Regions from separate parts of the Homo sapiens genome. Here region 1 is linked to region 2. The links come from fine-mapping of genetic effects on gene expression. A gene starts in region 2. The other region holds a variant in brackets. All regions are shown on one strand. Distances are from middle to middle. Region 1 has its middle 23 kb from the start of AXIN2. Region 2 holds the start of AXIN2 (axin 2).

Evidence for each region. PIP is the estimated chance that this variant, and not a neighbour inherited with it, causes the effect.
Region 1: its variant is the best candidate, but not a certain one, in a credible set for the expression of AXIN2 in whole blood (INTERVAL, PIP 0.50).

Annotation. Positions count from the first base shown.
Region 1 is chr17:65,582,304-65,586,678 of GRCh38, reverse strand. No RefSeq gene overlaps it. Among named protein-coding and RNA genes, the nearest start is that of AXIN2, 23 kb to the right of the region's middle. RefSeq lists an enhancer at 2,645-3,179. The variant G/A (reference allele first, on the strand shown) is at 1,756.
Region 2 is chr17:65,559,142-65,563,516 of GRCh38, reverse strand. It overlaps AXIN2 (axin 2), which reads left to right and starts at 1,869. Exons shown (of 11, transcript NM_004655.4): 1 at 1,869-2,067. RefSeq lists a silencer at 1,706-1,855.

The sequences.
Region 1 (4,375 bases), 23 kb before region 2:
TCCCAGAGGAGCTCCATGAAACATGGTGCTATGGACCCAATCTGTCTCCCCAAAATTCCCATGTTGATGCCCTGACCCCCAATATTCAGAGATGGGGCCTTTGGGAGGTGATTAGGTTCAGATGAGGTCATGAGGATGGGGCCCTCATGGTGGGATTAGTGCCCCTATAAGAGGAGACACAAAGGCCAGGCACAGTGGCTCACGTCTGTAATCCCAGCACTTAGGGAGGCTGAGGCAGGCTGATCACCTGAGGTCAGGAGTTTGACACCAGCCTGGCCAACATGGTGAAACCCCATCTCTACTAAAAATACAATACAAAAATTAGCCGGGCGTGGTGGCGTGTGCCTGTAATCTCAGCTACTGGGGAGGCTGAGGCAGGGCAATCGCTGGAACCCAGGAGGCAGAGGCTACAGTGAGCTGAGATCGTGCCACTGCACTCCAGCCTGGGCAATAAGAGTGAGACTGCATCTAAAAAAAAAAAAAAAAAAAGAGATGCCAGAGAGCTTGCTCTCTCTCTGTCTCTCAGCCATAGCAGGACATAGCCAGAAGGCAGCCCTCTGCAAGCCAGAAAGAGAGCCCTCACCAGGAACCAAAGACGTCAGCATCTTCATCTTGGACTTCCAGCCTCCAGAACTGTGAGAAGTAAATATCTGTGATTTAACCACCCAGTGTATGGTGTTTTGCTATGGCAGCCCAAGCTGACTAATGCACATGGGTACAGTAAACCCAAATGTACATTTCTGGGCAAATACCAAAGATCCTGTTCTAGAATTCAGTGTCAAGACCTACCAAATATTTTTTAGGGTTGGTTTTTCTTAATTATGGGAGAAAGAATTGAGGCATTTCTGTCCATTAATTTTACCTGTATGTAATGACAATTACATCCATTGTTTTAGGCTATCTTGATCCAGGGTGGTCTAAAAATCACTGGGCTAAGCTGCTGACCCCTCAGCCTGACCTCCTGAGTCTCCAGAGAAAAGCTCTGGAATCCGGCTTTGTGTAGACCTCCCCCAGGACTCTGATGCAGAGAACAGGTGCAGCCCATGGTGCTGTCTAGCACCCCTGGACCTAAAAGCTCTAAGGCCAGGTCTGAAACTGAACTCATGAATGCTCTCACTCCAAGATCCCACTTGATCTGTTTGATCTATTTGATCCAGTGTGATCTGTTTGATATTTAAGTTTTATGAATTGTTTGCAAGTGACATACAATGTCAACAGTGAGTCAGGCACCCCCAAAGCCAAATAGGGTGGATTCATCAGAGATAAAAGCAACCAGCGAGACTGGCCTGCAAGAGTCATCCCGGCCACTCTCAAGGCATGTGAACGTTAGCCTCACCTTCCAAGGCCCAAAGTCCCTGCTCTTCCTGAGGTTCTCTTGGATCGGCCAGAGGGGCCCGTGTATGCGCTCTGCATTCTGCCTCGGGTTGGGGGGTTGGCTAAGAAGGGATCTCCTAGCTTCTGGGCCCTGAGCAGCAATCAGAGCCTCCTGGGGCCTGCGGGACTTCCTGGTGGCGCCACCAGCCCTTTTAGTGCCAGCACGTTGGCCTTGGCTTTGCTGGCTCTTCCAGCAGCCAGCACTGTCCCTGCCAGGAACTGTGATCCCACAGCCAAGGCTTTGTAGCCTCTTCATGGAGAGAGAGGCTGTGCAGCTTCCTCTTCAGCTGGGCCAGGGTCCCTTGGGGTTCCCTTTCTTCCAAGGCCACATCCCTTAAGAAACAAAGCAAGTCCTTCTCAGGTGCTCGTGATCCTTGCAGG[G/A]GGTGCCTCAAGGACCTTCCAGGCAGGTGGAGAGAGGCAGTGACCTAGTCTTGCAGGAAGTGTCCTCAGTCTTCATGCAGAAAGCCTTGGGGACCTGGGCAAGAGAAGAGTTAAGTTCTGGGCTGAGGCTTCAGTGTTCAATTTCTTTATTTCCTGTTGATGACATTATTGCCTTCCTACAACCATTGACACATGTTGCTTTCATCTGTTTCATTTCAAGACATGAGTACACTCGCTGGAAACTATGCTTAATAGCTAAACTCAAAACATTTGGATTTCCTTTCCTTCTGTGACTCTTTGCTGGTATGCTGCATTCTCTAGTTTTTTTGGGTGGTGGTGGCATGTGTGTTTTTTTCAGCCACCATTTCTAAGCAGCAAAAAGAGAAGTCACTGGCTCTCTGGCCACCTGCCTCAGGCCCATCTGCTGCATATGGGATATTTCCCTTCGCTGGAGGAGGCCTATGTTTGCCCCATGTTGTGGTGGTTGGAGAGCATCTCTTCGTCCTCTTCTTTTACCCAGCTCCTTCCCCTGCCTGTCAGGGAGAGGACCAGCCTTGTCAGGGAGAGGACCATACCTACAGGATGGGCAGATGGCTTCTTCCAGTTGCTGTGTGCCCTGGAGCCTGCACCTACCCTTCCCACCTTCCCCAGCAGTGCAGGGCTGCATGACTCATGGCTTGGACCTTCTGAACAGAGCCTCCGGAATAGAGAGGTGAGCTTGTCAGTCTGGACCCGAGGACTCAGGGGAACAAATAGGACTTGCTGCCTGGGCTGCCTGTGGAGGGGATCTGGGCAAAGCTCCCCTTGGCCAGACCTTGGATGGAAAGCGGCCATTGGAAGCAGGCCAGCCTCATCTGGTTGGAATAGGGTTTGACACGTGTTTCCAAGCCTGGTCGCAGAGCTGCAGCTGCCACTAGCCCTTCCCTGGGCCCGGACTGCGCTGCCCGTTGACAGTCTGCAAAGCAAGCAGTCAGTCTGCTATGGAAGGGTTTGCAAGGTGGATGCCCCCCTAGCCTGGGGTGACTGCCCAGCCCCCACCAGCCTCCTGGGAGGGACATATTCCCAGGAGGAAGCCAGAGGGGAGCGGGAGGGGAAGGCAGCCACAGTCTGACTCCCTAAGATGAAGAAAGTCACTTGCGGTATGCATGGACCTTTATGTCCATTTCTCCTTTTATCCTTCCCGTAACAGAACGGCTTATTCCCATTTTGCAACTGGGAAAAGTGAAGCCCAGGAAGGGTGAGAAATTTGCTCAAGCTAGGCCAGGTGTGGTAGCTCACACCTGTAATCCCAGCTGAGGATTACAGCTGGGAGGCTGAGGCAAGAGGATCACCTGAGGTCAGGAGTTCGAAACCATCCTGGCCAACCTGGTGAAACCCCATCTCTACTAAAAACACACAAAAATTAGCAAGTTGTGGTGTCAGACACCTGTAATCCCAGCTACTCAGGAGGCTGAGACAGGAGAATCATTTGAACCCGGGAGGCAGAGGTTGCAGTGAGCCAAGATCATGCCATTGCACTCCAGCCTGGGTGATAGAGCGAGACTCCGTCTCAAAAAAAAAAAAAAAAAAAAATCAGAAAAAAGAAATTTGCTCAAGCTCACAGAGTTGGGTTTGTTTTGTTTGAGACAGGGTCTCATACTGTCGCTCAGGCTGGAGTACAGTGGCGCTATCACAACTCACTACAGCCTTGACTTCCCAGGCTCAAGCGATCCTCCAGCCTCAGCCTCTCAAGTAGCTGGGACCACAGGTGCAAGCTTTCATGCCTGGCTAATTTTTAATTTTTTTTGTAGAGATGGGGCTATGTTGCCCAGGCTGGTCTCGAACTCTTGGGCTCAAGCAATCCTCCTGCCTCGGCCTCCCAAAGTGCTGGGATTACAGGTGAGCCACTGCCTTACACAGCTTTTAAATGCTGAAGTTGGGATATGGGCCCAGACTTGAGGTCACCAAAGCCAGTTTTCTTTGGGATGCATCAAACCTGTCTGCCTGGAGGGAGATGGTGGTGGGTGCACTAGGCTTGGTGGGTGCGCTAAGCTAGACTTTAAGAAGATGGCCGGGCTCGGTGGCTCACGCCTGTAATCCCAGCACTTTGGGAGGCTGAAGCAGGTGGATCACGAGGTCAGGAGTTCGAGACCAGCCTGGCCTACATAGTGAAACCCCATCTCTACTCAAAAATACAAAAAATTAGCCAGGTGTGGTGGCAGGCACCTGTAATCCCAGCTACTCGGGAGGCTGAAGCAGGAGAATCGCTTGAACCCAGGAGGTGGAGGTTGCAGTGAGCTGAGATTGCACCATTGCACTCTAGCCCAGGCGGCAGAGCGAGACTCCATCTCAAAAAAAAAACCAGAAGAGTCCATACTCCTCCCATTTTTCTCCTCGGTCCCTCTCTCCCACTTCATCCTGGGCCTCTTCTGTTCAGCAATCCACATTTCAGGCAAATAGGAAGAAAGTCCGCTAATAGACAGGTAAGCGTGGTTGTGTGCATTTTATCCAGGAGGAAGAACATTTGAGGCCATTCTGCTGTGCCTTTCAAGTCCGCAGATCTGGCCAAGAGCCTGAGATAGCAGGAAGTGTGAAGAACAGAAACTTCAAGGGAAGAAGTGTGTGAGGGGATGGAAATGCT
Region 2 (4,375 bases):
CACCTGCCCCTTTCCAGCAGATCATGGGTGGTGGATCTTCCTCCTCTTTTTTTCTTTTCTTTTTTTTTTTTGAGATGGAGTCTTGCTCTGTCGCCCAGGCTCACTGCAACCTTAACCTCCTGTGTTTAAATGATTCTCCTGCCTCAGCCTCCCGAGTAGCTGGGACTACAGGCGCCCCCCACCACGCCTGGCTAATATTTGTAGTTTTAGTAGGGACAGGGTTTCACTATGTTGGCCAGGCTGGTCTCGAATGCCTGACCTCAGGTGATCCGCCTGCCTTGGCCTCCCGAAGTGCTGGGATTACACGGGTGAGCCACCACACCCAGCCTCTTCCTTCTCTTTTTCTATGGATACCTAGATAGAGCCACAATTCTTGCATGTTTTAAAGTTCTGAAGGCCTAATGACAGGCCATCTCGCATTTAAAAGGGCTCGTCATCCATTAAGTTGGAGAGTAAGAGCCTTGCACAGCTCTGAGGCCAGGACTCTGCCTTTCACTTCTTGGATCTCTTTGGTTCACACCTTTATGTGTGTGTGTGTGTGTGTTTTTTTTTTTTTTTTTTGAGGGAGTCTCGCTTTGTCACCCAGCCTGGCGTGCAGTGGTGCCATCTTGGCTCACTGCAACCCCCCCACCCCCGTCTCCTAGGTTCAAGCGATTCTCCTGCCTCAGCCTCCCGAGTAGCTGGGACTACAGGCACGTGCCACCACACCCGGCTGATTTTTGTATTTTTAGTAGAGACGGGGTTTCGCCATATTAGGCAGGCTGGTCTCGAACTCCTGACCTCAGATGATCCTCCAGCATGGGCCTCCCAAAATGCTGGGATTACAGGCATGAGCCACCGTCCCCGGCCCTTTGTTTTTTAAAAGGAAGAAAAGTTAATTATTCGCTCATAACATAAGGAATCATTCTATAGCAGCAGCAGAATAAATACACAATGCTCTGGGTTTGTGACATATTTTCTCATTTTAACGGAGAAGAGAAGGTTGTGTGTGCCTTATAAACGTTTTTGGGCAAATGTGGGAGAAATTCAAAGGTGACAATGGGGTGAGGAGTTTTCGATACATTAAAACGGCATGCATGCCTTGTCGTTTGGAGTGGGAAAAAAGATATTCCTATCGGTTTAATATGTAACATATGGCAGAAGAGGGGACTTTGGAAGAGTAACGGGTATGCAGTTGTTTGGGAGAGATGGCCAATGTGTGCCGCTACGAGGGTCTTATGGCCAGCAGGTTAGGAAGCTGGACCTAGGTCTTCAGGGCACTGAGGTATGCCTCCTAACTGGTGTTAGCACTCAGGCCTATACTGGCGGATTCACACCCCACTTTCACACATGCACAAACGCAATTCATCCACCAACTGCAGTCCTATATTTACCCGAACTCAGATGCACGTGCACAAGCGCGCACAGGCATGCACACGCCTCCAGCGGCTGGGCCCGAGTCCGCCCTATGACAGCGGGCCAGCCAACCCCAGGGCCGGAACTCCCTTTATAAAGTCCTCCAAGCCCAAATTCCCAGGGAAACTTGAATAGAGGTAGAAAAGCGTTTGATGATAGAAAAAAAAAAATCTGCTTGCTTGCAGTTCTTGCGATGGCCATAATGCTACCAGAAACTGTTGCATTCCAGAGCCGGGGAGAGCGAGGGCAGGCAGGGGGAGGAGGCGGGAGCAAAGAGGCCGGAGAACTTAAAAGAAGAAATCAGAACTCGGGCTGAGAATGCCCTCGGGGCCGCGGGGGGCTGGCAGGGGGCGGAGGAGAGGCCGGGGAAGGGTTAACGCGGGAGCGGAGCGTGCGGCGGGGGCGGGCCGGGGCGGGGCGGGGCGGGCGCGGGGCGCTGTCCCTTTAAGGCGGGCGGCGCGGGCCGGCCGAGCGCGGCTGTGATTGGCGCGGCGGGATCACTGGCTCCGCGAGCCTGGCCCGGGGGAGTCGGCTGGAGCCGGCTGCGCTTTGATAAGGTCCTGGCAACTCAGTAACAGCCCGAGAGCCGGGAAATAAAAATAACCCCTCAGAGCGATGGATTTCGGGGCCGCCCGGCGGCCGAGGCGCCCGCCGAAGGCCCTGCTGTAAAAGGTGGGGGTGGAAGCTCGGCCCCAGCGGAGCCGCTTCAAAGAAAGCCCCCCTCTTACAGGGGGCGAGGTCGCGCCGAGCCGCGGCGTGGGCGCGGGGGGCGGGAGGGGGCCCGGCCAGGCGGAGGCCGGGCCTGGAGGGGGGCGCGGGCGGGGCGGCCCTGCGGAGCGGTGGCGGGGCTGCGGGGGGCGGCCCGGGGCGCGGCCGGCGCGTACCTCCCTTTCAGGACCGTGCGCTCGGCTCGCGCCTTTGAAGTGCACAGTTAAATCCACAGCGCAGTTTTTGTTGGAAGCGCCCGGAGGACATTTGGTGCGCCGAGTGACTGCTGGAAACAGGACCTGCGTTGAAAGCCGGGCCGGGCGGGGGCGGAGGCCCGCTCGGATCTTTTGCATAAAAGGGGCGGCGGGGCGCGCCGTTCCCCCTCCCCGGCCGGTGGCTTTCGCTCTGAACCCGGGATTGTTGTTTCCCGCACCCCCTCCCCCGCCGCACGACTCCCCATGTTCCCCGACGCCGCGGCCGGCCCGGGGGGGCCCGGGGCTGCCGCCGCGAGCCGAGCCGGGGGCCGGGGCCGGGCCCCTGCCAGGGGCGCCTGCGAGGTCTCGCCGCCGAGCGCGCGCGGGGATCAATGGTGAGTGCCGAGGCCGAGGCGGCCGGGCGGACCGCGCGCTTTGATGTGCGGGGCGGCCCTTTGAAGTTGGCAGGCCGGCTATTTCGGGGCGCGCTAGGGGCCGGCGCGGAGGGGAGCGGCGGACCCGGCGCCCAGCGTTCCGGGGGGCTTGGCCGGGCAGCCTTGCGCGCCCTGCGCCGGAGCCCCCTCCCCAGCGCGGTGACCGGGTTGGCGGGGGGCCCAGAGAGGAGACTTATCCGAGTGGCGGCAGTGGCGGGGGCGGAGAGGGGGCAGATACCCCCCGGGGGTCGCGTCGCTGTCGCGGTTATGGATGTGAGTCGGCGTGTGAGTGCGCGCGGGAGTGCCTTTGGGAGGTGGGATGAAAGGGTAGCGGCGCCCCCCGCTTGCCCTCCCCCGCCCCCCGCCTCTCCTCCGCCCCATCCTCTCCTCCTACTTCTCTTCCCCCTCCCCTTTTCCCCTCCCTGCCGCGGGTCCGCGCTAAGGGGCCCACAGCGCTGGCGGAGGCTCAGTCTGCGCGCAGGACCGGCCCAAGTCCGGGGCGCCCGTGTCCCTCGCGTCCCTCCTCCCGGCCCGGGCCCCTCGCCCGTGGCCGCCCCGGCCCCTTTTGCGGAGAGGCAGAGACTCCGCGCGTCGCCATTTCTGGACTAGGCTGCTGCTTTCTGTGCTTTTTCTGCGGGCGCCTCTGCAAACGGCGGCGCCGGGGACCGACCCCCCGCCCGGGCTCGGGGCGCTGCTGGCGTGTCCCGGGGTTCCGGCCTCGAGGTGTGCCCGCCAGGGCTCTGGAGGCGTTCAGTTGCATTTGGGCCGGGGGACCGGGCCGGAGGGGCTCGGAGGACATGAGAGCCTGGCTTCGGCGGCCTTCGTCTTCCAGGTAACGGGGCCGCTCCACCTCCCACCGCCCGGGTAGCGCGGTGCCAACGGCAGCCCCACTTCTCCGTGGGCCGCGCCGCCCAGCCCCGCGGCTCGAGGCTCTGGTCGGGTTCAGCGTGCACCCATCCCAGATCCGGGGTCCCTGGCTTCTCGCCCGGGGTTGCACCCCGTTCAGCCCCTACCCTTCTTAGTTTGATCTTTTCCGTGCTAGGGAAAGCAGCTTGTTTATTGGTTAGATAAGACTTTTTTCTTTGGAAAAAAGACAGGCTTGAAATCAGTAGAGTTTGGGATTCTTGGCACAGGCAGTAGTGGCGTGAGACGGCTGGTGATCCAGTTTTGTAGGTTTCGCGGATCCGGGAGGTGGGTTGGGGGCACGGGGGCGACGGTTCCGAGGCTTCTCAGCTCTCTCTCAAAGTTTGAAGATGAAAGTCTCCCCTGAGTGAGTTGGTTTCTGGTTTGGGGGGAGGTCAGGGAAGACAGAGGTGTTGACTGAGCTGGATTCTTGGTGGGGGTAGGGGGCGCGTAGCGAACACTCAAATCTGAGTTGGGGAGGGGGTGTTTGCGTGCTGAATCTGGGAGTCCGGGAGCCCAATCCGCCTATGCTGGGCGGGCTTCTCTTGGGCCAGGATCTTCTGAATTTTTAAGGAGTGGGAAGAGGGAGCGCAGAGGGAGGGGGTGGGTGGGGAGAATGGGAACCAGATGCCGGGGAAGGGCACGTTTGGAGCTCGAGTTATCTGTGCAGGGCCGAGTGGGGAAATATACCGAAATTGGTTTCACCTGCACACAGCCTAGCGGCTGGGAGTGCGCCTTTTT